Linked DNA regions of Homo sapiens: all the other regions are reported to be linked to region 3. Evidence: microRNA targets listed by miRTarBase, many of them from high-throughput screens and not tested one by one. Region 3 holds a microRNA gene; each other region holds the end of a gene's coding sequence.

The links. The annotated mature microRNA hsa-miR-4638-5p reads ACUCGGCUGCGGUGGACAAGU and lies in region 3 at 1,146-1,166, opposite strand. An mRNA with a match to its seed (bases 2 to 7 or 8) in the 3' UTR can be bound and repressed. Matches are read on the target gene's strand: a 7mer-m8 pairs with bases 2 to 8, a 7mer-A1 pairs with bases 2 to 7 and ends in A, and an 8mer does both.
Region 1: miRTarBase lists MREG as a target of hsa-miR-4638-5p. Seed matches in the 3' UTR shown: 8mer at 1,309-1,316.
Region 2: miRTarBase lists TNFSF14 as a target of hsa-miR-4638-5p. Seed matches in the 3' UTR shown: 8mer at 881-888.
Region 4: the mRNA of PACS1 is a reported target of hsa-miR-4638-5p. The part of its 3' UTR that is shown has no 7-base or 8-base seed match.

The regions. Positions count from the first base shown.
Region 1 is chr2:215,938,333-215,945,360 of GRCh38, reverse strand. MREG (melanoregulin) reads left to right here. Exons shown (of 5, transcript NM_018000.3): 5 at 364-2,777. The coding sequence ends at 498. Among named protein-coding and RNA genes, the nearest start is that of MREG, 72 kb to the left of the region's middle.
Region 2 is chr19:6,658,553-6,665,491 of GRCh38, reverse strand. TNFSF14 (TNF superfamily member 14) reads left to right here. Exons shown (of 4, transcript NM_001376887.1): 4 at 142-4,239. The coding sequence ends at 566. Among named protein-coding and RNA genes, the nearest start is that of TNFSF14, 8.1 kb to the left of the region's middle.
Region 3 is chr5:181,221,467-181,224,466 of GRCh38, forward strand. It overlaps MIR4638 (microRNA 4638), which reads right to left and starts at 1,167; the gene lies at 1,100-1,167. It overlaps TRIM41 (tripartite motif containing 41), which reads left to right and starts at 1,815. Exons shown (of 6, transcript NM_033549.5): 1 at 1,815-3,000. The coding sequence starts at 2,534. It overlaps TRK-CTT2-3 (tRNA-Lys (anticodon CTT) 2-3), which reads right to left and starts at 585; the gene lies at 513-585. It overlaps TRV-CAC1-5 (tRNA-Val (anticodon CAC) 1-5), which reads right to left and starts at 1,001; the gene lies at 929-1,001. RefSeq lists silencers at 394-603, 854-1,083, 2,354-2,563 and enhancers at 1,814-2,043, 2,711-3,000.
Region 4 is chr11:66,242,998-66,250,151 of GRCh38, reverse strand. PACS1 (phosphofurin acidic cluster sorting protein 1) reads right to left here. Exons shown (of 24, transcript NM_018026.4): 23 at 7,121-7,154; 24 at 5,408-6,987. The coding sequence ends at 6,872. LOC124902694 reads left to right here. Exons shown (of 3, transcript XR_007062737.1): 2 at 3,779-3,976; 3 at 5,040-5,442. It also overlaps a transcript of KLC2 not described here. Among named protein-coding and RNA genes, the nearest start is that of KLC2, 11 kb to the left of the region's middle.

The sequences.
Region 1 (7,028 bases), not on the chromosome of region 3:
CCTACTGAGGCTTGGGTTCCAGCTCAAGAGTTTGTATTTTTCAGTGAATTCTACTGTGTAGTCTATTTTCTGAACCATTTGTAGGTCAAAGAGATGTGAGAAGTATTGTTTATTTAACCTATAAGACTAAGAAATAATCTGAAAGGAGAAAGGACGCTAAGGAGTGGGGAAATGTTTCTTGGATAATGTAACTAAAGGATTAAGGCGTGTCTCTACATTTGTTAGGAAAAAATTAATAAACGTCTTACTTGCTCATTGTCATTTCCAGGGTGGGTTTTGTTGTTGTTAGATTGCTTTTTCCCATCGACATGTCTTGGTTCCTATCTTGCCAGCAGTTTTTTGGTTTGTTGTTTGTTTTTGCAGGACCGTCTCATTGCACTTGATGCTGCAGAAGAGTTCTTTAAGCTTGCTCGTCGAACTTACCCCAAGAAGCCTGGGGTTCCATGCCTGGCAGATGGCCAGAAAGAACTGCACTACCTTCCGTTTCCAAGTCCCTAAAGGAGAGGCTCAGGGGCAGAATGGGAATTCTTCCATGAGGACTCAGCAGTCAACCAAAGTTGGACAATTACATGTAGAAGAGAGTGAGCAAATAGAGTTTGCTTAGTGAAAAATGATACTGAATTCTACATAAATGTAAAGTCTTTAATCTGAGGACCCTGCCCCATGAATTGTGCAGGCTGCATTGAAACGCCTTGGTGATCTCATATTTAGGAAGAAAGTTAAAGAGTTGGTCAGATGGATAGTTCATAATGGGTGGTTCCATTCTGAGAGCCCATTGCCCCAGCTTTGGTTTTAGTTGTGTCATAATCTCTGATCATTAATCCTACTGACTGAGTGGACTATTTCAGTTAATAAAACAATATGATTAATAGAGAGAGCTGTCATTGAGTCCCAAAATGGATTGCCAGTTTTAAAATAATTATTATAAAATGTATGCTAACCCCAAAATAATACTAGGCATGAGGTGACCTCTCTGATTTGGTCACCTTGTAGAACCTTGGAGGGTGTCAGGGCATCTCTTTGAGTATCAGTTATGATTATTCAGAAGTATAGATGTATCAAATGATAGAAATGACAAGGAATGGCTGGGCGTGGTGGCTCATGCCTGTAATCCCAGCACTTTGGGAGGCCAAGGTGGGTGGATCATGAGGTCAGGAGTTCAAGACCAGCCTGACCAACATGGTGAAACCCTGTCTCTACTAAAAATACAAAAATTAGCCAGGTGTGATGGCACGCGCTTGTAATCCCAGCTACCCAGGAGGCTGAGGTAGGAGAATCGCTTGAGCCCGGGCAGTGGAGGTTACAGTGAGCCGAGATTGCACCATTGCACTCCAGCCTGGGCGACAGAGCGAGACTCCGTCTCAAAAAAAAAAAAAAAAAAAAAAAAAAAGAGTTATGTATTCATGTGTTGTACTTGCATTTTAAATTCCCAACATTATTGATATCTGGTTCTCTCATCTTTGTATATTGTCCATTTCTATTCCAAAAGCCTTTCGCTCTTTTTTTTTTTTTTTTTTTTTTTGATGGACTCTCGCTCTGTCGCCCAGGCTGGAGTACAGTGGTGCGATCTCGGCTCACTGCAACCTCCGCCTTCCGGTTTCAAGTGATTCCCCTGCCTCAGCCTCTGGAGTAGCTGGAACTACAGGCGCGTGCCACCACACCTGGCTAATTTTTTGTATTTTTAGTAGAGACGGGGTTTCACCATGTTAGCCACGATGGTCTCGATCTCCTGACCTCGTCATCCGCCTGCCCCAGCCTCCCAAAGTGCTGGGATTACAGGCGTGAGTCACCGCGCCCGGCCAAGCCCTTGGCATTTTATCTGGAATAGCATCTGTAAACTGAAGTGTTTGACCTCTGTTTTCTTCTCTCCTCTTTCATCTGTTTCTGATTCGTTGGCTGGCAGCTGCACCTGTGGGGGGACCTCTCATGCAGACTTGCACATATGCAGGGAGTATTGCACTGAAGATCTTTGCTGGACCTTCTTCTCTTCAGAAGATAATTTTCAAAAGGGAGCAATGCTGTGAATGCAGCTTGCTTCTCTCTACAGATTGAGAAGTCCAGCTTCAAAAGTTACTTGCCACTTAAGCAAGGAACTTGTCAAGAGATCATGGTTCATGTTACTGAAAAGACTTTAAGGATTTGTAAGGTTAATCCATAGATTGCTGAGAAAAATGGAAATATTTTTATTTTTACAGATTTTGCACTTCTGAATTCAGGTTAAAAACTAACTTGTATTTAGTCTGCTTAGAGGACTGTGACTTGAAAATTTTTATATACCAATGAGCTTTTTGGTAGCGTCCACAATGTTTAAAATATTTCATAGGCGAGATCCGTGTTCTCCATTTATTAATGCATTGTAGACCAATTTAACTGCTGTGTTTCAGGAAAATTCTTCCTAGTTTAATAAGCAAGCTAAAAGTTTTATTTTTTATATTTAGTGCTTAATCTTTGCCTCATGTTATGTAAAATTAGCCTGCAGATATTTTCTCTCAATTCTGTAGACTCTCGCAAGATAAACATTCAAACAGTGAAACAAACAATAAAATAAATAAACCTAAGGATGTCGTATTGTTTTACTCTCGGTCTCAGAATTTGTATTTTGCCTTTCTGCCTTTTTTATGTCAAAATAGATGAGATTGTGTGCATCTATAAATTGTTACCACAGTATTTTTGATAATGAATAAGGATAGGACTATCTCTGTGATTATTAAAATACATGGAATTATCCAGGAAATTTTCCTTACAAGGAATTAAAAGACTCCTGTATTTACTTTTCAGCTGGATGTGTGTTATATTTCTGACATAAGAAGGGATAGATATTCTTTCCATAATCCCTTTAAATTAAAGGGCAGAGAGGCTGAAACACTCATGGGTTTAAGGACCTCCCATCATCCTAAAGCCAGTCAAGGATTAGATGTGTGTTAAGTCCAGTGGACATGGCAGTGCATGAGAGGGGCGCAGGGGTGCCTCAGGTGGCCACTGTAGATGTCACAGTGTGCTCGGCAGGACCAGTAGCCACAGAAGTGTGGGAGGCCAGAGAGTTTCCCACTTTTTGTCTCCCTGTCGACTACTTTAGTACTCCTTTTTCATTTTTTTTTATATTCTTACTTTAGTACTTCTTAAAGGCTCATCTGTGTATGCAGGTTGATTTGGGGTGGTAGATGGATGGAAGTTTTTATATTAATATTTATTTTAAAATGCACCAGGAGAAAACCCTCTAACCAGTAGATCAAACACCTGGTTTTACAGTTCATGGATGTGTTGCACAGAATATTATTTATGCTTTCTTAAAGGCAAAGGGACACCCAAGAAGGCACAGAGGACACATGTACTAAAGGGATAAGGAATGCATTGGTGAGAGGGCACCAGCATCCCTGAGAAGCTCAGTGGCAGTTCTGAAGGCCAGATGCTGTTACAGAAGTGAGCTCACTGACAGCAATGGACATGGAAGAACAGAGGCCCAATGGCAGTGAGTCACTATCAGAAGACAAATGGATACAATTATCACAATGAGTGGCCAGGTTGAAGGATTCCTGCAGAGAGCTTTGGAGACAGTTAATGGAACATGCCATCTTTAGGAGCAAAATAAGTCTAAAATGAGTATTGCTCAAACGATACCTTCAAAAGACCTCAAGGATGGGTGATCAGGAGATAGGACACAGCCACCTTAATAAAAGGTTATAATCTTTTGCCAAATTTTCAGACCTTTGTTATTTTCCAAATGCAGAAACTGCTGATTGAAGGAAAGTCTAGGTCTCCAAGAAGGTCTTTGTAAAACCACTGCAAGTGTGTATGGCAATGATGTCCCTATGGTTATTTACTTGGATAACTGTACACTGGGGAAGGGGAGTACATGAATAATCTGAGGGCGCTGAGACACAAGGTCCAAGCTGACAGTGATACTTCAGGACCAGAGTATCACTACAGTCCACCTTTTGGAGTGAGGGGCATATGGGATTCAGGTAATAAATGGAGTTCTTTTCCAGGTATTACTTAACACTAGGTCCACTGAATTCATGGCTCTACCCAATGGTAGTCTGCCTGTCGACTACTACTTTCAGAATAATCATCCCCCTACTTAGACTCCCTGTCCCTGTCATCTCCTTACTTTCAGAATAAATAATCAGACTGAACATACTTGGGAGTTGACAGAACCGCCATTCCTTTCTTGGCTTGTGTGTTAGAATTTTCTTAAAGGGAAAGCCATGTGGAAGCGGGAATGTTGAGCCTTATCATAATTCCATTTAATTCACCACTCTGACCTCTGTAAAAACCAGACACTGGAGAATGAAAGTGGACTATTGAAAACTCAGCCAAGTAGTAACCGTAACTGCAGCGTCTGTACCAGATGTGAAACCTTGGCTAGAATAGACTAAGACAAGGTCAGCTACATGGTTTGTGGCCACTGATCTGTCAAATGTTTTCTTCCCCCACCCATCAGAATGGTAGATCAAAAACTGTATTCCCTTGAGATAGAAAATATTTATGATGGACACACACACACGCGCGCACACACACAACACACATACACTTACATTGCTCCAGAGTTCCCTATTAGGTTGGCTGAGGCTTTTGTTGTGACTGCATCTTAGTAAAATCTCTCCCTTTCCCCAAGCCTGTCTTCCTTCTCTCCTCCACAGGAATTTGCTAATAGACTTCTTTCATGCCAATCTCCATTTCAAAATAATTTCCCTCAGGGAACCCAACTGTGACAGTATCTGAGTTGCCAATACAATCACTATCACATATTTTCCAATGTGATGGTTTTTCAAGACCATCATCAAGTGTCCTTTCTTTAGTGAAGACATTAAATGTTAAGTTTCCCTAGGAGTTATCCGACTAATGGCAGTAACTTTTGGAAAAGAACTGCAGTGGTAGCAGCAGAAACCAATTTATCTGACTATTTTCCAATGCCCAGAGAGGGATCATGGCACAACCCTGGCTTCCTTTCCATTGAATTAATGTATTTATTCATTTCCTCGGATCACTTTCTATTACTAATATCACAAGAAATATTTTGCAGTGAAGGGAGTATACTCTCATAACTTCTAAATCACAACTACGTACAGGATGAAAATGGGTAGCCACTTTGAACTTGCTATTTACAATGTTTCAGCAAGTGTTATTAACTTCTAGAATATTCTTCCATCTTCTGTTTTGACACACTATGGATGGACATTTGGGTATCCAGTTTTCAAGTCACTTAAACATATGGATTTAGAACACTGGGTTGTGGAGAACTAAGTCAGGCAACCAGATTTTAGCTTGAGTCTCATCATTTAATCACTTATTAGCTATAGCGGATTTATTTGATATTGTTTCTCACCTATGTTCTAAGTATTTAAAGATAATAAATTTGGAGAGAATAGAATTAGAAATACAGAAATAAAATAATGACATAATAGCTAGAGGAAGCTTAGGCCTATAGATCATTACTTTTTAAAAAAACATCTGTAGTTTTTATGCAGCAATTTATTTTAAACATTTTTAAACATGTAGTGTGAATTATGCATATGTGTAACTGAACTTTATCATATATTCTAGAGACATATAGTTAGCATTTGAAGTATCTTAATCAGGAATCCACTTTCTAGAGATGGTTGCTTAATCATTTCAATTATCTTCATCAAAATTTGTATCCGAAAGTTTATTAAGCTGTGTAAATGATACTAGGAATACTTTTCTGTCTGGTTTCCATCACCTTTTTTAGGAAGAAGATACTAAAAATCTGTCAAACCCAGCAGTACTCAAGGCCTAGAGCTCCATTTGTTTTTTATCTGCCTACTTCACACACCTGACGATATGTTGTCGGATCTTATTATTGGAATATTGTTGTGTCTGCCTAAGAATGAAACTTTCACTGCCATTTTTATTTCAATATTTGTGGCTGAGAACAGAAAGGAGGACTTATTTGGGATTACAGGAAGCAAAGGTAGAATTTCTGGCCAATAACAATTGTACGTTTAGAAGAATTTGGGGCAACACTTGCTTTCATTGTAACACGCCACCTGGTCACAAGATTATGGGGAAATAAATATATCGTCTTCACTTTATTTTTTTTGTTGCTGGAGATTATTGGTATTTACTAAAAGACTGGACATTTACTGAGAGGTCACATTGGCTCAGGTTTCTAATTTCTAATTTCTAACCCATTTTCCAAATAAAAGAGAAGTGCAGAAAATTAAAAAAAAAATCAACTATAATATCAGAACTGTAAGACAACCAAGCATTCGTAGCAATTTGGGATATTTCATTCTTTTTTATGTGCATATTTAAAATTTATATGTATAATAATAATTTTTTTTTTTTTTGAGATGAAGTCTCGCTCTGTCGCCAAGGGTAGAGTGCAGTGGCGCAATCTTGGCTCACTGCAACCTCTGCCTCCCGGGTTCAAGCAATTCTCCTGCCTCAGCCTCTCAAGTAGTTGGGATTACAGGCACCTGCCACCACGGCTGGTTAATTTTTGTATTTTCAGTAGAGACGGGGTTTCACCATGTTGGCCAGGCTGGTCTCAAACTCCTGACCTCAGGTGATCCGCCCACCTCAGCCTCCCAAAGTGCTGGGATTACAGGTAAGAGCCACGTGCCTGGCCTATATGTATAATTTTAAACCCTGATTTTTAAATTTAGGTCAGGGATTATGAACTCAAATGCTTCCACGAGCCATTGGATTGGGACTGTAGATCAAAGGGGGTTATATATTTTTTGTCCTAAAGGGAAGAGTTACTACTCAGCTGCAAATAATTGTCATGTACGAGGGCTCAGTTTTGCCAGTTATTCTGATTTTTTGAGTAGAGCCAAACAAACATATTTTTGTGTAAATTTTCTCAGTATGGAAATGTTCACTAAATTAAAATTTTAAAAACATTGCATAAGCCAAAGATATATATATATATGTGTGTGTATATATATGATCTGGTAGTTTACCACATTTCACAAGTCATAAACATTTTATGTTACTAAATAGCCTCTGAGAACATCATTTTTACAAAGCTATATAATATTTGAGTAGATGTAACAAAGTTTACA
Region 2 (6,939 bases), not on the chromosome of region 3:
GGGTGCAGTAAGCCGAGATCATGCCACCACACTCCAGCCTGGTCCACAGAGCGAGACTCTGTGTCAAACAAACAAACAAACAAGCAACAGAGGAAGACATGTGCTGACCGGCAGCCCCCTTTGTCTCTCTCTTCCCAACAGGGGCCAACTCCAGCTTGACCGGCAGCGGGGGGCCGCTGTTATGGGAGACTCAGCTGGGCCTGGCCTTCCTGAGGGGCCTCAGCTACCACGATGGGGCCCTTGTGGTCACCAAAGCTGGCTACTACTACATCTACTCCAAGGTGCAGCTGGGCGGTGTGGGCTGCCCGCTGGGCCTGGCCAGCACCATCACCCACGGCCTCTACAAGCGCACACCCCGCTACCCCGAGGAGCTGGAGCTGTTGGTCAGCCAGCAGTCACCCTGCGGACGGGCCACCAGCAGCTCCCGGGTCTGGTGGGACAGCAGCTTCCTGGGTGGTGTGGTACACCTGGAGGCTGGGGAGAAGGTGGTCGTCCGTGTGCTGGATGAACGCCTGGTTCGACTGCGTGATGGTACCCGGTCTTACTTCGGGGCTTTCATGGTGTGAAGGAAGGAGCGTGGTGCATTGGACATGGGTCTGACACGTGGAGAACTCAGAGGGTGCCTCAGGGGAAAGAAAACTCACGAAGCAGAGGCTGGGCGTGGTGGCTCTCGCCTGTAATCCCAGCACTTTGGGAGGCCAAGGCAGGCGGATCACCTGAGGTCAGGAGTTCGAGACCAGCCTGGCTAACATGGCAAAACCCCATCTCTACTAAAAATACAAAAATTAGCCGGACGTGGTGGTGCCTGCCTGTAATCCAGCTACTCAGGAGGCTGAGGCAGGATAATTTTGCTTAAACCCGGGAGGCGGAGGTTGCAGTGAGCCGAGATCACACCACTGCACTCCAACCTGGGAAACGCAGTGAGACTGTGCCTCAAAAAAAAGAAAGGAAGAAAAAAGAAAACTCAGGAAACAGATCTTGGGGGACACTCCAGGGAACCCAAAACTCAAAGGCGGAGAGCTCAGTGGGCACCACCAAGGCGAGATGAAGCCCCAGCAGGCACCTTCAGAAGACCCACGTAGACTGCAGACCCTGCCACGGACAATACTAAGGACAAAAACCCAGAGACTTGGGGTCTGTGGGCCCCCAAACATGGGGTAAAGTTGATTTGCCTGATATTCAGGAAGAAGGGGTGAGGGGTGGGTATTTATGCTTTTGATTCAGAAGAAAGTGGGGCTTGGGATTCCAGGGACTTGGCTGGGGGTGGGAAACTTCATCCACTTCCCTACTCTCATCATGAGTACGGACAGGGTGGGCGGGAGACTGATCATCGGGACTCATCATGAAGAGCCCAGCCCCACCCCACATACTCAGATCCCACCCACAGACTGGTGGCCACACCTCAGCCTGGTCACAAAGAGTTACACTCAGATACATGAGCACGGCAGCGTGCTCATAACTGTTTAACAACCAGCTGTCCTGGGAGGGGGACAGCTTTGTAATGTTTGCCAATTTCCATGGTGTAAATGCTACCACCATGGCTGATTTCATCACTGCCAAGCATAGACATCCCTAATAGGACACCACGGATCTGTCCCCGGCATCCGGCCCAGGGCCTGGCACAAAGCATGCTCTAGGGAAATGCTTGCTGATTGAAAGGAAGGAAGAATGACTCTACAGTCACACCTATGGCATCCCACAAAATCTGTCACATGGCTGCATAATCTCAGCCACTCTTTCACAACTATAGACTCATACACGCGAAGTGCCAGATTCATGCACAACCACACAATCACATGGAAGTCACAGACGGCATCACAGACAGTCACAGCACTGTGTGTATGTTATAACACAAGCACACAAAACTCAGACAGCATCCCAGCTACACAGCCACTCCCAGAGGTGTCACCGTCACACTTGGTAATTAATACTCATTACATTAGACACAGACAGACCAAGTTATAGTCAGACCTGGTTACACACATACACACACACAATATCACCATGACAAATACACATTACACACACACAACATCACAATGACAAACACACATTACACACACAACATCACGATGACAAACACACATTACACACACAACATCACGATGACAAACACACATTACACACACATCACAATGACAAACACAACATTACACACACACAACATCACAATGACACACACATCACACACACATCACAATGACAAACACACAACATTACACACATATACACACAGCCTGAGGGCCCTCCCCAGCCCAGACTAACACATCTCGGGGTGAGGACCAGACCTTGTTCATAACCCTGGGCCTCTTAACCACTGATCTTTGAAATAAATGGCAAATAGTTGTACCTGGATCTGTCTAGTTCTTAGGGGAACAAACTGAAGAAGGGTGGAGAGGAATTGTCAGGCCTAAAGAGCCCCACAGGGAAAGGGAGGAGTCGGATGGGGGGCAACCATCAGCAACAAGTGGTGGCTCCTAGAGGCAGAGGGATGGAGGTAATGACCCATGGAGGTCATTCTACAGATGAGGAACCTGGACCCAGTTGGCTCAAGTCCATGCAGGAAATGTGGGGGAAACCAGAGACCTCACGTCTGGATCTGGCTTCCTCTCCAATCCACAATTCCTGAGGAAGTAGAGGCTACATCCCGCAAGACGCCCTTATTAGACACATCCAGGACAGAATGACAATCCGCCAAGCCAGCTGGAAGCATAAAACACAGGGAGCTGGTGGGTTGGGTGGGGGCAGATAATGATATGCATACAAATTAGAGGGTCTATGCAAATGAGCATTGCTGCAGTGTGGCTGGAGGGAATCCTTAGTTCCTAGGATTCTAGGATATGGGTTTCGACCCCAGAGGTGAATGTATTGTTATTATTGTTTTGTTGTTGTTGTGAATGACAAGTCAAAATTTGTGGGTTATTGTTGTTATCGCCAATAGTATTCTTGTCATTGTTGCACAGTACAGAGATGAAGGAAACAGATTTTGCAATCAGATGATCCTGGGTTCTGAGTCCACTCTGCCACTCACCAGCTATATGACCTCCAGCAATTTCCATCACCTCTCAATGCTTCAGTTTCCCCATCGGCAAGATGGTTGTGGGGGGAGAGGAACAACAGTACAGATTCACCATCCCAAATTCAAAATGCTCCAAAATCTAGGCCGGGCGTGGTGGCTCATACCTGTAATCCCAGCACTTTGGGAGGTCAAAGTGGACGGATAACCTGAGGTCAGGAGCTCCAGACCAGCCTGGCCAACATGGCGAAACCCCATCTCTACTAAAAATACAAAAAATTACCTGGGTGTGGTGGGGGGCACCTGTAACCCCAGCTACTCGGGAGGCTGAGGCAGGAACCCTGGAGGTTGAGGTTGCAGTGAGCTGAGATCACACCACTGCACTCCAGCCTGGGTGACAGAGCAAGGCTCCCATCTCAAAAAACAAAAAAACATGCTCCAAAATCTGAAACTCTTTGAGCCCCAGTGTGATGCCACAAGTGGGAAATTCCACAACTCATCACATGTGATAGATTGCAGTGGAAATGCAGGCACACACCACGAAGTTTACTCAGCATCCTCAAAGGAAATCCCCGTCAGTAGCTATATATCATTTTCTCACATGCCAGATAGGTATCTCTCATCTTTTACTGTTAGGTACTTCTGTGTTGAATAGGTGGAGGAAAATGATTGCTGGTTAGTAGTATATAAATTCAGAGTCAGGAAGGATGGTGATGTCGGCTGGGTGCAGTGGCTCATGCCTGTAATTCCAATGTGATACCCTACCTTGTGTTTAACGTGATTGACTCTCCCTTAGCTGAGAGGGCCAGGCAGACTCTATTTTGGCTTCTTCGCTTGCAGTCTCTCACCCACCCCCCTTCCTCAAGGACTTAAGCTGACTCCCAGCACATCCAAGAATGCGATTACTGATAAGATACTGTGACAAGCTATATCCACAATTCCCAGGAATTCGTCCGGTTGATAGCACCCAAAGCCCCCGCGTCTATCACCTTGTGATAGATTTAAAGCCCCTGCACCTGGAACTGTTTGTTTTTCTGTTACCATTTATCTTTTTCACTTTCTTGCCTGTTTTGCTTCTGTAAAATTGCTTCAGCTCGGCTCCCTCTTCCCCTTCTAAACCAAGGTATAAAAAGAAACCTAGCCCCTTCTTTGGGGTGGAGAGAATTTTGAGCGCTAGCCGTCTCTCAGTCGCCGGCTAATAAAGGACTCCTGAATTAGTCTAAGAGTGTGGCATTTCTCTATAACTCACTCAGTTACAACATTTGGAGGCCACAGCGAGATCCGCCACCGGGTGAAATCTGGACCCGTTCCGGGCTCCCCTGGACAGACGGCGAGCTTATAGGGGAGGCGCCACCTAAAGACGTTCCAGGGACGTGTAGGCCACCGTCTTCCAGAGGGGAACGGATCGGCTGCCGGTGTCCTCAACCAAATTCAACTCCTGAGTCCTCAGTGTCTGGTCCCGGGAAGGTAAGTCAGATTTGACTCTGTTTCTCTGGGAGGGAGGTGGCCCTGATGAGGGCGTCCCTCTGACTCTGTCCATATTCCAGGACGCTGGAGGACAGAGTCCTGGTTTCTGTCTGACTCTGTTTCTCTGGGAGGGAAGCGGCTCTGATGAGGGCATCCCTCTGACTCTGTCCAAATTCCAGGATGCTGGAGGACAGAGTCCTGGTTTCTGTCAGGCATCTCTGTAAGACTAGTCTCTTTCTTTCTCTCTCTCTCTATCTCTTCTCCTCTCGTTGAGGTCTCAAGGAGACCTCTGTTTTAAAACGGGTATTGAAGAATTGTAATAAACTCTGTGTGAGTGAGTGAGTGAATGTGGAGGTCAAGGGCTCGCGCTTGAATTTTCAGTTTGTAGCTCCACGGCAAAAGCTACAGAGTTCGAGTGGGCCCTCACCTGTGGTTCCGTGGTGACCTCATAAGGCTTAGGGCAGCATTGAGCATAGCTGGATCTGAACGGGCGTTTATACCGGCCTGCCAAAGCTAAGAGGAGCCTGAGTCCTCACAAGGGGAGTGGCCAGGCGGGCATCTGACTGATCCCATCACGGGACCCCCACCCCTTGTCTGTCTATAAAAATTGTCATAATTGTCTATATACCCTAGTGTCTATTGTCCTGTTTAGTGTCTATTGTCCTGTTTGGTGTCTGTCTAAATTTCATGGGTCAGGTCACCCATATTGCCCAAGACGACTGGGCAAGGACTTCTTCAAAGTCCTTTAGTGCAGATTTTCTATTACAGGGGGTCTCAGGCGTGTCTCTTCGGGTTGCCAGGCCCAGGGGCCACTCCTCCGCCAGTTTACAAACGAAACAGCCTCCTTCCCCCACAGCAGGGGCTCCCCAACCCACGGATGAGGAGTGGGAGGTGACGGTGCTGGACCCTCTCCCCCAGGGACCCCCGCTCCTGCGCCTTCAGGCGTCAAAGACCCTGACTTCCCCGACTACCGGCGCGTCCGCACCCGGCTCAGAACGCAGGGGCCCGGACTGCTGCGGTGACCTTGGTCCCGGGCCCGGGCTTCTGAGCTGGGCTTGCAGCGCCTGACGGGGCCTGGAGGCGGGGCGGGGGGACTGCGGAGTAGTCCTGGCGACCCAGCGCTGCCCAGCACGGCTCCTCCCAGCCTGAGAAGATCCGAGTGGCCCCTTTTCCTCCTCATCCCCATCCCTTACCCCGCACATCTACCTCTGTTCTTCCGATACTGCAGCCCTCTAGGCCGTGAATTTCTCTGTCCGTGCTGGGTTTTATATTTCTGCTTAAACCTTGTTAATTGCCTCCAGAATGGGAAACTCTTCTTCCCAGCCCTGTAGAGATTGGAGCCCTCTCCAACGCATGTTACAAAATTTCTCGGCCGGGCGCGGTGACTCACGCCTGTCATCCCAGCACTTTGGGAGGCCGAGGTGGGTGAATCACGAGGTCAGGAGATCGAGACCATCCTGGCTAACACAGGGAAACCCCGTCTCTACTAAAAATACAAAACAATTAGCCGGGCGTGGTGGCAGGTGCCTGTAGTCCCAGCTACTCGGGAGGCTGAGGCAGGAGAATGGTGTGAACCCAGGAGGCGGAGGTTGCAGTGAGCCGAGATCGCTCCACTGCACTCCAGCCTGGGTGACAGAGCGAGACTCCGTCTCAAAAAAAAAAAAAAAGTTCCAGAAGGAAGGACTCACTCCTGCCTGGAAAGGACCTCATACTGTCATCCTCACCATGCCGACAGATCTGAAAGTGGACAGCATTCCTGCTTGGGTTCATCACTCTCACATCAAAAAGGCCAACAAAGTCCAGCAAGACCCCAAGCAAGACCCCAGCACAGACCCCAAGCCTGGGTCGGGCCCCTTAAAACTGCACCTAAGTCGAGTGAAGCCATTGGATTAATTCTTTTTATTTACCTCTTTTGTTTGTTTCCACCTGTCATGCCCTCTGCTCCTTCCTACTCTTTTCTCCTTACTTCTTTCACGACAGGACGTGTGTTTGCAATCACCACCTGGAAGGCGGGGACCTCCAAGGAAGTCTCTTTTGCAGTCGATTTATGTGCTTTGTTCCCAGAGCCTGCCCTCACCCGTGAAGAGCAACGCAATCTGCCGGTCATGGGAACAGGGAACGTCGACCTTGCAGCAGGGTTTGGACACATAGGAAGCCGGACTGCATGTGGAAGCTCTAAAGGTGCAGAAAAAGGACTCCAGGAGGCTGACTTTTACCTCTGTCTTGGAAATCACCCTGACTGAAGTTGTCAAGATTCTTATCAGTTTTTCTGCCCTCGCTGGTCCTGTGTAACCCTAGCCACTTACCCTGGAGGATCAACCCAGTCCTCAACCCTCTCCATAACTCGCACTTCCCATCCTAGACTGTGTACTATGAGAAATTGCAACCCTCTTCCTACAACTATCCATAACCCTGGTACAGCTCAATGGTATTATGGCATGTCATGGGGATTAAGG
Region 3 (3,000 bases):
GGTCGTAGCGAGACAAAGGCGGAAGCCTAACCACTAAATCTCCCAGTAAAGTGGGAGTGAATCAGATAGGTTTTGACGCTCACGAACGCCTGGGGTCGTCCTGCGGTCTCACCCCAGTTTCGATAAACCACATTGTTCCCTCCAGCACAGCAAGTCTCACAGCAAGACGGGGGCAGGCCGTCTGGTAAACATAAAATGCCTAATATGTGCTGCCCGTGGGCGAGTGGCCTACAGCAAAGGGTCATGCATGCACGATAGCCCGCGGTGCTGGCCTGCAGGAATTGGTCCACAGGTACCCGCCTCTCATTCTTTCTTTGAGAGTTAGCGAGGGTGCAAACGTTGTGAGAATTCTGCTCGGGGCCTTCCACACACGGATCGGAGAACACCAGGTTAGTCCAAGTTCTAACACCCACTGTTGGTGAATCTGCTACCCACTAGGTCTTGGTACAGAGAATACCATTTGTGCACTTAGGTAACACAACTTGCCTTAACCTTTCCAAAAAGCGAAATTACGCCCAACGTGGGGCTCGAACCCACGACCCTGAGATTAAGAGTCTCATGCTCTACCGACTGAGCTAGCCGGGCGGCCATGTCTGTATTCTAACTTTGTCTCTGAAGATGGAGGTTACCCTCAGAGGTGTAAGCACGTTTCCACTGTGCAAATACTAAGAAGCGCCTGCGCCTGGCTCTGTTCTAGGCACTAGAGCCGAGGATCTGAAATCTACGGATTCCTGTACATGTGATGGCTGCATAGGCTTCAGAAGGGAAGAGCAAGAGATTAGGTGAGGGGCGAGACCTGAATTTACTTGAGTAGTGCTCTCCTTCAGTTTTGCCCCAGTCCGTGTTCCTCCGAAGCGCAGGGACACACATGTCCTTCCTGCCACGTAAGGCCGGCCTCGGGAGAGAATCTCCCGAACAGACCAAAACGTGTTTCCGCCCGGTTTCGAACCGGGGACCTTTCGCGTGTGAGGCGAACGTGATAACCACTACACTACGGAAACCACCTTGGCTACTTTCCTGCCGGCATCGTCCTGAAGACACACACGGCTGAGACGGCCGGGATAGCTCTAGGCAAGCGCCCTTGTAGGACAGGCCCGGGGACCCCTGCCGCGGCCGGCTGAGCGGTGTCCAGGTTCTGGAGCCGGACTTGTCCACCGCAGCCGAGTCCGCAGGTCCTGTAATGGCCTAGCATAGTTCACCCACGAGGGTTCGTGGTTTTTGGCGCGTTTGATCTGACATACTCAGAGGCCTGACCACCCCCCTAGGAAGCGCGACGTCCATCTGGAGTTTTCCCGCGAGCCGCCTTGAGAGCAGGGTAAGTTCTGCAGGCCCAGCCCTGGCGTCACGCTGTGTCTGGCACTCACTGGAGATTCTGTACATAAATCATGGCCCCGTCATTTTTCTCGCATCAAACAACATTTATTTATTTATGTATCGACATCAAATCTCTATAAAAATAAAATTTAAAGAGCTATTTAAGCATCAAGTATTATTTCTACCGCACAAAGCATCTATTTTTGCAGAGATGCTGTGAGAATGTAGATGTAATGATTCGTCACCACTTCTTCACTGCTGGGCAGTTAGGGAAGTTCATCTAAACCATGAGACAGTGTCCGGTTGGCAGTTTCTACCTCGGATGCGAAACGCCGACTACAGTTGGGGAAGGGTGGGGCGTCTGCTGCCCTAACCCGCGAAGCGCTTTCTCAGGCCCCGCCCCCGGTCCGACCCGGACGACCCTCTGAGTCCTCCACAACGAAGTCGTCTGCCTAGAAGGGCCGGAAGTACTTCAGGGCGCGCCGCGGACCCACCCCCTCGCTTCCGGCATCGGCTGTGGGGAGTACCGGCTGCAGTCGGCTGTGCCGGGAGGGTAGGATGGCGTCTGGCCGATGCGGTGATAGCACCGAAAGCAGACGGCCGCCAGGCGCTCCCCCTACCCCCCGAAGTTTCTCCCCAGCGGCGGGGGATGGGGGTAGGCGGTTCCTCTGTTCTTTCTGCGTTCCCCGCGGCCTCTTACCACAGAGACGCGGGCCTCCACCGTCCTAGCCCTCCCGCCCTGTTCTCTAGTGCGGACTAGAGCGTCTCCTCGCCATTTCCTGTCGCCCTGGGGCCCCGCGGGGAAAAAGGGGGAGTAGCAGGACAGCGGAGGGAAGTCGCGAGCTTAGGTGGTGTGTAGACGCCGGAAGTGTTGGGAAGGAGGCCGGAAGCTAGGGGCGGGGCCAGGAAGTGAGGAGGGGCGGGGGTTTATGAGGAGTCCAAGGGAGCATTGGGGCAGACTTGTACTCAGAGCCACCTGAGGGACTTGGCGGTGGCGCCCAGCACTGTCCCCTCCCCTCGTAGAGACACGGTTGTCGTTTGGGAGTAGGGAACACTGTGTTGGGGTGGGTTGTCGGCAGGACATCTCTCTGGCTGCTCTTGGGGCGAGGTGTGGAGGGGCAGGGCTGGGGGTGGAGCCGGGTCGCCAGGGCGTCGGTAGGGAAGACCCCCGCCCCTCGCCCCCCCACCGAACCTCTACACTGGCTGGCTGGACACTAAGATGGCTGCCGTTGCCATGACACCCAACCCTGTGCAGACCCTTCAGGAGGAGGCGGTGTGCGCCATCTGCCTCGATTACTTCACGGACCCCGTGTCCATCGGCTGCGGGCACAACTTCTGCCGAGTTTGTGTAACCCAGTTGTGGGGTGGGGAGGATGAGGAGGACAGAGATGAGTTAGATCGGGAGGAGGAGGAGGAGGACGGAGAGGAGGAGGAAGTGGAGGCTGTGGGGGCTGGCGCGGGGTGGGACACCCCCATGCGGGATGAAGACTACGAGGGTGACATGGAGGAGGAGGTCGAGGAGGAAGAAGAGGGTGTGTTCTGGACCAGTGGCATGAGCAGGTCCAGCTGGGACAACATGGACTATGTGTGGGAGGAGGAGGACGAGGAGGAAGACCTGGACTACTACTTGGGGGACATGGAGGAGGAGGACCTGAGGGGGGAGGATGAGGAGGACGAGGAGGAAGT
Region 4 (7,154 bases), not on the chromosome of region 3:
GGCTCTTGGAGGAGGTGATACAAAGGCCACATCTTAAAGGAAAAGGAGCTTACTCTGGGGTTGGAAGAGGGATGTGAGCACTGAAAGGTCAGGTGTGGCTCGAGGGTGGTGAGCATGGCAGGGGGAAAGCAACTAGAAGTGAAGGTAGTGAGCCAGACCACGGGCCTGGTGGACGGTGGTTGGCCTCTATTCAGAGGGCACTGGGAGGATAGGACGACAAAGGATACTCTATGCGAGGAAGGTACCCTGGCTTATAGTTGGAAACAGCGTTTGGGAGGCAGCATGGACAAGAGTTGCTGATGGATTGGGAGGGGCGGCGCAGGATGAGTCCGGGTTTCTGGCTGGAGTAACAGGATGGAGGCTGGTGCCATTGCCGACTGGGGAAGATCAAGGGAAATCAGGAGTCTTGCTTTGGCCATGTGAAGTCTGGGATGACTGTGAGTGTTCAGGTCGCAACATAAGTGGTTAGATGGGAGGCTCTAGAGTTGGGAGGGGAGGCTCTGACCTTTGGTTTCCTCCTTTGCAAAAGGAAGCATCAGCAGAATTGATTTCACAGGGAGGGCTGCTTTAAGGACTCGATGAAATAAACCATATAAGGCACTCAGCAGCAGCCTGGCTCAAAGGCAATGCCCTGTAGGTGACGGTGACAGCTATTAATGCTGTCAGTCCTTGGACACGGCAGGTGAAAGGGGTGGCGAAAGAAGCAGTTTAAAGATTAGTCTGAAACCTCCTGTACAGCAGAATCCCAGATGATGCATGTAGGGATAATCAACACCTCACCCGAGTGTGGGCTGCACCAGCAACTTCCTTCCAAAGAGAACAGCATGGGAGCAGGTGTGTGGGACTTTACAGTGAGGAGCCCAGGTCAACCTCATCCATGATGTCATGTTGACGGCATGTGCCCTTCACAGGCTGCGCTGAGAAGGGCATTCACCTTTGAGGTCTTCCTCCCCACAACCTATAACCTCCATCCAGCCACGAGAAGAACATCAGACAATCCCCAACTGAGGGACATTCTACAAAATGCCTGACCAATACTCCTCAAAACTGTCAAGGTCATCAAAAATAGAGATCAAAAAGTCTAAGAAAATGTCACAGCCCAAAGGATCCTAAGAAGGCAGAATGGGCTGGATGTGTTGGTTCACGCCTGTAATCCTAGCACTTTGGGAGGCAAGGTAGGAGGATCGATAACTGAGGTCAGTTCAAGACCCTATCTCTACCAAAAAAAACGAAAGAAAACAAAACAAAACAAAGAGCCAGGTGTAATGACACATGCCTGTAGTCCCAGATACCCAGAAGGCTGAGGTAGGAGAATGGCTTGAGCCCAGGAGTTCCAGGCTGCAGTGAACTAGGTTGGCACCACTGCACTCCAGCCTGGGCAACAGAGCAAGACCTGGTCTCTAAAATCAACAACAAAAAAGAAGACAGAATGACCAAACGTAGTGTGGCATTCTGGGTGGGAGTCTGAAATGGAGAAAGGACATTAGGGAAAAACTAAGGACATGCATAAAATAGGGACATTTATTTATTTATTTGAGAAAGAGTCTCACTCTGTCGCCCAGGTTGGAGTGCAGTGGTGCAATCTTGGCTCACTGCAACCTACGCCTCCCGGGTTCAAGCGATTTTCTTGCCTCAGCCTCCCGAGTAGCTGCGATTACAGGTGCCCACCACGCCTGGCTAATTTTTGTATTTTTAGTAGAGATGGGGTTTCACCACATTGGCTAGGCTGGTCTTGAACTCCTGACCTCAGATGATCCACCTGCTTCAGCCTCCCCAAGTGCTGTGATTATGGGAGTGAACCACCGTGCCCGGCCAAAATAGGGACTTTAGTTAATAATCGTGCATCACGATTGACTCACTAGTTATGACAAATGCACATGAATGTAACATGTTAACAGTAAGGGAAACTGGCAGGGCGGTATATAGCCACTCTTTCTACTATTTTTGCAACTTTTCCATAAATCTAAAGGTATTCTAAAATAGTTTACTTAAAAATAAAACCAGTCTGGAGTTGGCGTGCAGGTTAGATAGAGGCTCTTCCACTTTCTGCATCAAAAAGCCTTTAGTCTCTGGCGGACCTTGGGCAGCTCTGCTCTGGTCCAGCCTTAACTCCTGGTGACTGGGCACAGCTGCTTCAGGGTCTGAGTCAGCACCTTCCACCTGAGTTGCCTTGTGCTCCAAACTGTCCCTACACAGCTGATTTCCTCTTCTTTGCCCGGGGTAGGAGTCTATCTTCTTACTTCTGAGCCTATGAGAAAACCCAGGTGTCTTTTGGGCTAAGGCATCAGTTAAAATGTCTTGAGTAGCACATCTGGATTTGGAACCCAATTCCAGCAGCAAGAGGGAACTTCATTCTGCAAACGAGTATTTATTGTGCACCTGTGATGGGCCAAGCAGTATTTTGGGTGCCAAGGATACAACAGGGAAAAACATTTCCTCTTTTCTTGGAGCTTGCATTCTTGTGGGAGAGACAAATGAATAATTAATGCCAAGGAGTGGGAAATATGAGTAAGAAAAAAAAAAAAGAGGGGTTGGAGAAGGGAAGGCCTCCTGAGGTGACATTTCAGCCAAGACCTGAATGATGGAGCAAGCCACACGGGCCTGAGGGCAGCAGCAGGATGGACAGGACCAAAGGTCCGTGCAAAGGCCCTGAGGCTGAGTGGTGTTTGAGGAATGTTGAGAGGCCAGTGAGGAGGGGAAGCGTAAGAGGAATTAAGATCCAGCAGCTCCTGGGAGATCAGACCATGTGGGCCCCTCACAGGTAAGGCTTCAGCTTACACACCTAGGTAGGTGGGACACTCTGCACAGTTTGGATCAGCAATCCAACACGATCTGCTCAGCTCTGAAAAATCTCTGGCTATTGAGTGGAGAACAGGCTACAGGGAGAAGAGGGTGGGAGCAGGGATAATTAGGAGCCTATTGCAATATCCAGACAAGAGATAATCGCAGTAGAGGAAGGGGCAAGGCACTGTCAGGATAAGCCTGGAGGATTTGCTCATGGATTAGATGGTGGGTACAAGAGAAACAGGAATCGAGGAGGATTCCCCAGTTTTCGGCCTCGGAACTGAAGAACCGAGTTTGCATTTACTAGGAGGGAAGTCTCCCCAGGGGAGCACATTTCACACCATGGGGCCGAGTGAGCTCCCTTTAGGGCTGAGTGTGGGGAGAGAGGAGGCTATATTAGAGGCTGGAGCCCCGAGTCCTCCAGGGTTTTGAGGCTGGGAAGCTGAGGACACCATAGCAAGGGAGGCCAAAAAGGAGAGGCCAGGGAGGTGAGAGGAGAGCACAGAGCTGTCCACAGGCCAGGTGGAAAGACTCAAGCGGGTGATTATTTGCATCCAATGCTACTGATAGGACTGGGCAACCCAGGTCACTGGCAACTGTGGAAAGGAAACTTTTGGTGGGATTGTGAGGAAAAAACTGGAAGGGAGTGGGCAGAAGTGGAGACGGGGAACACACACAGCTCTTTGGAAGAGTTTTGCTCTAAGGGGAGCAGAGACAAGGCATGGCAGCTGAAGAGAATCTGGAAGTCTCTGGTCTTTGATATTGAGCTATACCCACTTGGGATGCATGTAAGTGGGTGGAAAGTCCTGGCAGAGGGGAGAACCCGCAGTGCAGGAGAGAGGGCGACTGTAGGAGAAAAGCCCTCAAGGAGTGAAGAGGGATGGGCCCCGAGGATGGGAGCAGGGTGGGGCATTTATTGCCACAGAAGGGGAGGCTGAGGATATGGTGTCAGATGCAGACGGGCTGAGAGTTCACCCTTCACCCTCTCTCCTAGCTCTAAGCCAGAACCTAAGGGGGCCAGAAGCTGGGATCCAAGTCTACTTGTCCCACCCCCTCCACTGGAACTCCCTGGCCCCCAGCTCTGCACAGCTCCTGCCCTGCAGCCCTCGCCTGGCTGTGCTCCGGGAAGTCCTCGTGGGCACTTCACCCTGCTCTGCAGCCACACTCACACCCTAGATCCAGGTCACACTAGGTATGATTTGCTTCTCCTGGCCTTTCCTCTCACCAGCCCCGCTATCACCTCATTTAGAAGGCAGGTATGATTTTCATTTTCTAGGCTCAGAGAGTTTGCGCAGGGCCACACAGCTGGGTCCCCAAGCCTCTCTATGTGAGGTCGTCTGGGCACAGGGCTTGGGGAACCCAAGACTGAGGCCAGTGACAGCAAGCTCTGGATGGCCATCCACTCCTCTGGGGCTATACCTGTAGGGCAAGGATGCCAAGCGCTGCCTCTCCTGCAAGCCTTCACCTCTGGACACTTCTCTTTTTTGAGACAGAGTCTCATTCTGTCGTCCAGGCTGGAGTGCGGTGGCACGATCTCAGCTCACTGCAACCTCCGCCTCCCGGGTTCAAGTGATTCTCGTGCCTCAGCCTCCTGAGTAGCTGAGATTACAGGCACATACCACCACGCCCGGCAAAAATTTTTTTTTTTTTTTTGAGACGGAGTCTCGCTGTGTCGCCAGGCTGGAGTACAGTGGCGCGATCTCGGCTCACTGCAACCTCCACCTCCTGAGTTCAAGTGATTCTCCTGCCTCAGCCTCCTGAGTAGCTGGGATTACAGGCACGTGCCACCACACCCAGCTAATCTTTGTATTTTTAGTAGGGACGGGGTTTCACCATGTTGGCCAGGATGGTCTTAATCTCCTGACCTCATGATCCACCCACCTCAGCCTCCCAAAGTGCTGGGATTACAGGTGTGAGCCACCGCACCCAGCCAATTTTTTATATTTTTTAGTAGAGACGGGGTTTCGCCACATTGCCCAGGCTGGTCTCAAACTCCTGAGTTCGGGCAAAACGCCTGCCTTGGCCTCCCAAAGTGCTGGGATTACAGGCGTGAGCCACTGTGCCTGGCCACCTCTGGGCACTTCTTCATGGGGAAGGCACACACTTCTTCGTGTGTGCAGGCCTGTCTTGGAAGCTAGTGGAAAAACCGGGCACCCAGGGGACAGTGGCTACCACTGCTTTCCATCTCTAAGTCAAGGGCGGGCAGGAAAAGGAACTCCACAGATGTCCCTCAGCCCTATTCCCTCCACCTGCAGAGGCAAAGACCCCACTGGCTCGGACTTCACCAACCTGGAGCAGGGGAGAGAAGCTAAGTTCTGACCTTTGATCAGAAGATGGGGAAGCCACACTCAACACGTCACTGCCTTGGGAGGTGGATTTGGGGATGGTGGGTCCTGGGGAAAAACGGGCTTTTGGTGTGGAAATGACATCTTTCCTGTTTCCGACCTCTGCCTGCCTCATGCCAGGTGAGACACCTTCATGCCTGTTTCCATGATTGAGAACATGGGAGTACGCTTCTTTCCACCTACGTTCCTGGTGGATTTTCACTGGAGTTGGGCTGCACTGTGGAAAAGGGGTTGGGCAGCTCCTGTGGCACAGTGAGGGGGCATAGAAGCCCAAGGCAGTCGGTAAGAAATCACCAATTTATTGAATGAAAAACCCAACATCAACTCAGTCCCTCCCACCCCCATCTCCTCTCTCTGGCCCAGGAGACGCTCAGGACAGCAGGGCTGAGCCCTGGGAAGGGCTGGAGGAGAGCTTGGGGGAGGTATGGAGAATGAGAAAAACACTTTCAAAATGAAGTTCTGTGCAAAAACTTCTGGGAAGGAGTGAGAGGACAAGAGAAAAGCTCCAAAGGGGCTGTGGGGCGCAGATGGCCGGGCTGGGGGGTGCAGAGGGCTGGGCTGGGGCCCTGTGTCCTCAACCACTCCTGAGAACACGGACGGTCAGGAATGAGGGGCTCAGACCCCGGGTTGGTGAGAGGGAGGTGACAGGGAGGGAAGGAGCCTGCTGGAGGGAAACCTGGCTGGGAGGATGGGTCTGGGCCCAGGCTGGGGCCTAAGGAGGGGGAAGAACAGAGCAGGGAAAGGCAGAAAAACTGACACGGTGGGAGGAGGGAGATGAATGGGAGATGAAACAGAATGTCTGAGGGGCCACAGACAGCATGTATGGTGGTGGGGGTCTGCCTCCCATCTCTCCAAGTCCAGGCAGAGCTGTGCTGGGTGAGGGGCTGGGAGGCAGAGGCAGGAGCATCATTAACAAGGGTGGAAGCCACGAAGACAGCGACCAGTGCACAGGGTGTGTCACATGGTACAACCAAGAGACTTGGCGTGCAAAGAACCAAAGAAACACTCAGGACACACACGACATCTGCAGGGAACCTGGGGGTGGTGAGGAAGTCGTGCACGGGTGGTGGGGGGAGACTGGGAGGCCCCTCTGTCCTAGAAACGCTGTGTCACCATAGCAACAGGGTCCTGGAGGCAGGGGAGCTGCCTCCTGCCCCTGTGAGCTGTGAAGTAGGGGTCCTGTGGGCTCAGGGTGCCCCCTTACCCTCCCTTGAGAAGCTCTGGGGCAGGTGGAGAACCCCATAAGAGTTGAAAGTGGCCTTGGGTCCTGCTGGAGGCAGCAGAGTGAGTGGATCTGGCAGCTGCATCCTAGAGGACACCCTGGTGGCTGGAGGGGCTGGGGGAGGACTAGGCTCTCCTGCTGGGGACCAGGATTCCAGCTTTCTCATTTCCGAGAAGGAAACTGATACCACAAGGAAGAGTTTGGAAGTCGGGTGAAGGAAGGCCTGGGGGACTCAGTCCAGGGGACTATGGGCACCAGAAGGCAAAACCAACACGCCTTGGGCCTGGAGCAGGAGGGAGAAGGGGAAAAGCGGGAAGGAGGAGGGGCTGTGCAGGGGTGGGCTGGAGGGGAGGGGAGGGAAGGCGTCCCTGTGGCAGTGTCCTTCGGGACCTGGGCGAGTGAGAGGCAGACCCTGGTGCCAGGGAAGGGGTGCTGGGCCCGGGCCTGCTGGCCTCCCCCTGCCCGCAGGCGGTGAGGCTGGTGGCAGTGCCAGGAGGGAAAGTGGCTGGGAGACAGGGCCTCAGGTGGCCTTGCTGCCACTGAAGAGTCCCACTGGAAAGTGCTTGACATGGGTGGGCCACTGGGCTGCCAGCTGGAAGAACTTGATGTCACTCCACTCGACCCCATCGATGGACACTAGGGGTGACAGGAGAGGAGGGGTGACCAGACTGCTCAGGCCATCTCCCCAGGGCCCCTTGGGAAAGGCCATTGCCTGCCTCCCTCTCCAGTCCCTTTCTTGCCCTCCTCCCGGCCCTGCCTGCCCTCGCACCTCTCAGCATAGTCTGCTGCTGCTTGGCTGAGCA